Regions from separate parts of the Homo sapiens genome. Here region 1 is linked to region 2. Evidence: fine-mapped expression QTL. A gene starts in region 2. The other region holds a variant in brackets. All regions are shown on one strand. Distances are from middle to middle. Region 1 has its middle 95 kb from the start of LINC00687. Region 2 holds the start of BTBD3 (BTB domain containing 3).

Evidence for each region. PIP is the estimated chance that this variant, and not a neighbour inherited with it, causes the effect.
Region 1: its variant is fine-mapped to the expression of BTBD3 in whole blood (INTERVAL, PIP 0.92).

Annotation. Positions count from the first base shown.
Region 1 is chr20:11,774,495-11,777,421 of GRCh38, reverse strand. No RefSeq gene overlaps it. Among named protein-coding and RNA genes, the nearest start is that of LINC00687, 95 kb to the left of the region's middle. The variant G/A (reference allele first, on the strand shown) is at 1,317.
Region 2 is chr20:11,916,245-11,919,171 of GRCh38, reverse strand. It overlaps BTBD3 (BTB domain containing 3), which reads right to left and starts at 1,279. Exons shown (of 4, transcript NM_014962.4): 1 at 571-1,279; 2 at 1-86. The coding sequence starts at 896. BTBD3-AS1 (BTBD3 antisense RNA 1) reads left to right here and starts at 571. Exons shown (of 3, transcript NR_186407.1): 1 at 571-858.

The sequences.
Region 1 (2,927 bases), 140 kb after region 2:
AGTTTTCAAAATTAAGATAAAATTTCAATACCAGAAACGTTCCCCATTTAAAGCACAGTTCAGTGATTTTTAATATATTCACAAGCTTGTGCAACCATTACCACTACCTAATTCCAGAACGTTTTTGTTAACACTAAAAAGAAATCCAGTACACTTTAGCTATCACCTGCCCATCCCCATCCCCATCTCCTCAGCCATCACTAATCTACTTTCTTTCTTTGAGGGTTTGCATATTCTGGATGTTTTGTATAAATAGGATCACATAATATGTGGCATTTTGTATCTGGCTTCTTTCACTTAGCATAATGCTTTCAAGATTCATCCATATTGCAGCATATATCAGTACTTTCTTCTTTTTTATGGCTGAATAATGTTCCATTGTATGAGTGAATACACCACATTGCATTTTTCTATTCACTTACAGACATTGGGTTGTTTTCACTTTTATGGCTATTACAAATAAGGCTGCTATGAACATTTTTACACAAATATGTTTGTGAATATATCTTTTCAATTTCTTGGGCAAATGCCTGGGAATGGAATTGTTGAGTCATATGGTAACTCACGTTTAAAATTTTGAGGAGCTATCAAGCTGCTTTCCAAAGTGGCTGAACCATTTTAGATTCCTCGTAGCAGTGCACAAGGGCTCTGCTTTCTCTATACCCTCACCAACACTTGTTTTTGTTTATCTTTTGTTTACAGTCATCCTACTGGGTGTGCTGTGGTATCTCATCATGGTTTTTGATTTGCATTTCCCTAATGCCTAAATGATGTTGAGAAACTTTCCACGCACTCATTGGCTATTTGTATATTTTCTTTGGAGAATACACATCAGACTTTTTAAAAAAAATTTAGAGATTTTACTCATTAGACTAATTTTAGTTTTACAGAAATATTGGGTAGATAATACAGAGAGTTCTCACCCAAACAATTAACCTTATTATTAATACCTTAAATAGTATAGTGCATTTGTTAAAATTAATGAACCAATATTGATACATTTTTATTCCCTGAAATGCCTATACTTTATTCAAGCTTTCCTTAGTTTTGGCTTAATGTCCTTTTTCTGTTTCAAGATCCCACCCAGGATTCTACATTACATTCAGTTGTTTTATCTCCTCGGGCTCCTCTTGGCTGTGACAGTTTCTCAGGCTTCCTTATTTTTGATGACCTTGACAGTTTGAGGAATATTGGTCAGCTATGTTGTAAGATGCCTTTCATTGAGGTTTGTCTAATGTTTTTCTGAGGATTAGACAGAGGTTATGGGTTTTGGGGAATAAAAGGTCACAGAGAAAGATAATTTCAGCATAACAATG[G/A]TACATATAATACTATCAACATGATTTATGACTGCTGATATTGACCTTGATCACCAGGCTGAAGTGGTATTCATCAGCTTTTTCAGCAAGATTATTCTTTCATAAAAAACAATATTGTTAAAGACTCATGTCAATTTATTTTATACTTTGAGGTATATAGTATTCTGTTCTCACATTGCTACAGAGAAATACCTGAGACTAGGTAACTTATAAAGAAAAGAGATTTAATTGGCTCACGGTTCTGCAGGCTGTGAAGGAAGCATGATGCTGGCATCTGATTGGCTTCTAAAGAGGCCTCAGAAAACTTACCATCATGGCGGAAGGTGAAGGGGGAGCAGACACATTACATGGCCAAGGCAGGAGGAAGGGGGAGTGAGTACTACACACTTCTAAAAGACCAGATCTTGTAAGAACCCACTACCGAAAGGACAGTACCAAGAGGATGGTACTAAACCATTCATGAGAAACCTGCCTCCTTGATCCAATCACCTCCCACCAGGTCCCAACTCCAATATTAATGATTGCATTTGGACATGAAATTTGAACAGGGGCAACACCCAAACTGTATCAGGGTATAATCCAATCCTGTTTTGTTACCAAAATTATTTCGGCGGTGCCATCGGACAAACTCCTATCAGTGTGAAGTTGTTTCTTTTGTTGTTGTGGGGCGTTTTTGTTTTTGTACTTCTTTACTTTCTAGCACTACAAAATAAGATAGGTGCAGGGGCGGGGGGGCGGGGGTGCACTAGCTATGAATGTTACTACTGTAGTGTCCTTTCCTATAGGCCCTCTCAGCTCACAGAGCAATAAAGTATATACACATATACCAAACATCGAATATACACATATCTGTAAATATTTCTATATGTAACCATCTGTATCTAAATTTCAGGTGATAGTAAATATACACAGGAGTTCATATTGATGTCTCCAACTCTAGTCTATTACCATAGGGATCATGTTAGCCTTCTCCCTTTGCTTATCTGTGAGCACCTACCTCAGCCATTCACTGACTTTAGTTATTCAATTTTAGGGTAAATTATAGCAGTGGCAGAACTGTTAACCTGTGTCTCCTTAGGGAACAAGTTTACCAACTAGAGTGCAGTTCTCTTGTAGAGTCACTCTTGCCTTTATCCTTAAAGGCTCTATACATTTTCAAAGTTACTTAGGTCAGCACCATTTTCCCCACCCCTAATGTTTGAATTTGTTTCATACATTTGTAATAAAGTTATATTGTGTTGTCACAATCTGTACTCTTTTGCTGCAATTCCAGGATCTTCTAAATAATCATTTAAAATTTGCACATATCAAATATCAGTCTTTGTGCTATTAATTTCCATGGGTATGACAAATGCATAATATCATGAATCCACTATTATAGTATCATACAGAATAGTTTCAACTGCTCTAAAAAATCTTGCTCTTTTCATCTTATTTATCCCTCTCCCTCTCTCAACGCTGGCAGCCACTGATTTTTTTTTTTTTTTTTTTTTGCTTTCTGTATTAGTTTGCTGGGGCTTCTATAATAAAGTCCTTAGACTGGTACTTTCTTCTAACAACATAAATTAACTTTCTCACAGTTCTGGAGGCTAGAAGTCTGAAATCAAGGTG
Region 2 (2,927 bases):
GTCCTGGCAACCGTTGAGTCCCACCTGGTGGCCCAACCACAAAATGTACATCTGCCATCAAATCATTATTGAACATCATCGCATTTCTATAAACAGAGGCAACTCATTAATTCACAGCAGCCTGCATTTTTAACATCCCCTTCCCCAACATACAAAACCCACAAAAGACTTGCAAGCTAAGCAACAGTCCAGTAACTTCAAGGCAAAACAACAAATAAAGGTTCTAACTAAACTGTTCATAATCATTGCAAACATAAGGGAAGTAACTAAAGTTTAAAATAAAAGTTATACAAACTTTTAATAAAGCTAAGGACAAATAAAAGGTTCCCATTTTCTATGGCCCATAGACAACCCTGTCACTTGAATGTTACAGCTTGCAAAAACATTTTTATCTAAGAGGAAAACAGCTGTACTGTTTTGGAAAAGATACAAGGCAATTTTCCATTACCAATAAAAAGCTTCTGGGAAAAGAGGAAACAGATTTGTGTTCAAATACATTACAGGTTTTGCAAAAGCAGAAACTTCAACACAGGAAAACTTTTAAAGTAAATAGACTAGCGCGGCACTTACCTCTCTCTAATGGTGGGATAAAGACCCTGCCAGTTTGGGGCCGGGATAAGGTTGTTGTTACTGAGATTCTGCTGGTGGTACTGCTGGACGCTGGTGCTGCTGGAGTTGGCTGGCTTTTTACGGGGGAATATATCAGCAGCCATCTTCTTCTTTTTAGTCTTCAAGGTAATTATTTCATAACAAACTGGTGGCAACTTGCTGCTGTTGCTACTGCTGCTGCTGGTATTTGCTTTCTTTGAGCTTTTCTTGGACCTGTTCTTTACCGTCTCTGGAAGCATCAAGAAGAAGGTGAGACATTTCATGTTCTTTTCCTTGTCATCTACCATGAGTACAGTGTGTCTCTCTTTAGAGTTAGATATCCCAAATTGGTTTGAACATCAAGGAAAAGAGATTAGCCCGGGCTAAGAGGTTAACTGAAACCAACAAAGCTGATATTTTGCTGCTTTTCTCAGCCAGGCAAGGTGACCTTTTCACTATGTTGAATAGAAACTGGCTTTAAGTTTTATCCAGTACTGGGTCTGTTAAATATATCCCCATCATGATTCCTGTTTCTCTTATTTGCTCATAAAAATAACTGTTTCCTAGATCACCTGAAAATGCTACACTGCAAAGATGACAGGCACAGAGCTGTAGCACTTCTTTTCTGAATTAGGTCAGCAAGATGGGCTGGAGCTGCGTGAGTCTGTTCAGCCGGCTGAAGTTGTGTGGTGAATGGATCGGAGGAGAGTAGGTATTACAGCCCTGCAGATGGAGTCAGACAGCCAGTGCTCCGAGCCAATAGCTGAAGTCACCAATCATGATTGGACCAAGCAAAACAGTGACACCTATTGTAACATGCATAGTTCTGATATTAAAGGAACAGCAGTTGCATTTTCTTGTCTACTGTATATTTAAACAAGATAATAACATATGAAATATATTTGACAACAGGAAGGGAGGAGTTTATGCCCACAGATTTCTCTTCAGTAGACATACATTATGTCCCCAGTTAAGCAGGATCAATTAACAAAGGGTAGGGACAGATATCTATATTTCTACTAAAATCTTTTTCCCAGCAGCATTTAGTTTCAAATACTTAAAACAAAATCCTCCAGTCTATAAACTGAAAAGGGCTATTAATAGCAAAACACATTTATTACACTTTAAAGGCAAAGGACGTTATTTTTCTTTTTCTTAGCCTCTTTTGAGTGCAAGTCATAGTCTAGTGCTAAAGAAGAGAACTGAGGCCATGTGTTCAGTTTACCTCCCAATGTTTTCTAGCTTCTATAATGGTCTTTGACAGGTGTCTCAGGTCACAAAATACTGTTAATTAGATTAAGATTATACCCGTACACCTAAGTACACTAAAGCATAAGATAAACTCTAGAAGTAAAAATAAGATTCAAATAAAAACAAATCTGATGATCAATGTTCAAAGGCTGTAATTCACTAAAAATATTTCAGATGGGGCCATGTTCAGGATCTCAAAATTCAACTTAACTGTTAAGGCTACATTTAGTCTTGTCTTAATTTTAAAGAATATAATCCACAACTTCTAAGACAGAACAAATAACAAGGCTATTCAAAATGATAAATGTTCGGATTCCACCTAGTTAAAATGCAAACAGGTTCTCTCTGCTTTGAATTAGAAGAATATAAGCTACCATTTGATTTTTGTAGGTGTGAATCCTCCAACCATTTCTAGCGTTGGTGAGTAAAAAAAACAAAAACACCGGCAATAGGTTCTGCATATGCTTATTTATTGTAAAGAGGGACTAATTAAAATATTTAATCTCACCCCTATCTATTTGGATCACGCTCATTTGTTCAAAGCACAGCAGCCATTTGCTACCCCTCAGGCAAATGCACCCTTCATGACCACAGCCCTCCTTGTTTTAACATTTGTCTGAATAATGACTACCTGACACAGTGAGGGCTCAGCAAATAAGAGTTACGATTGTTATTGTTATAATTAATAATCTGCTAAAGGCGGTTACCAGAAATCAGTCTTTAAATCCCTAGAACACTAAATTGAACCAAGAAATATCCTCTTTATTGTTGTTATTATTATTCTTAAAACCATTTGCAAAGCCTCTGTAAGAGAACCAGGGCCTGTAGCACAGTTACCTGTCTCCATTTTAGATGGATCCTGAAGCACTGCTTATTTATTATGATTATCATGTTCTCAACAGCAGAACACACACATACAGATACCTCCAAATCATCTTCATACACACTTTAACACACAATGTTAGAGAGGGATCTAGAAACCAGTTTAAAAAGCACATAGAGAAAGTCATGAAGAAACAAGTAAGCTCCTATTGACCTAATTATTCAGAATAGGGTTAACACTAAAGGATTTCTCTCTTGCTCAAGTG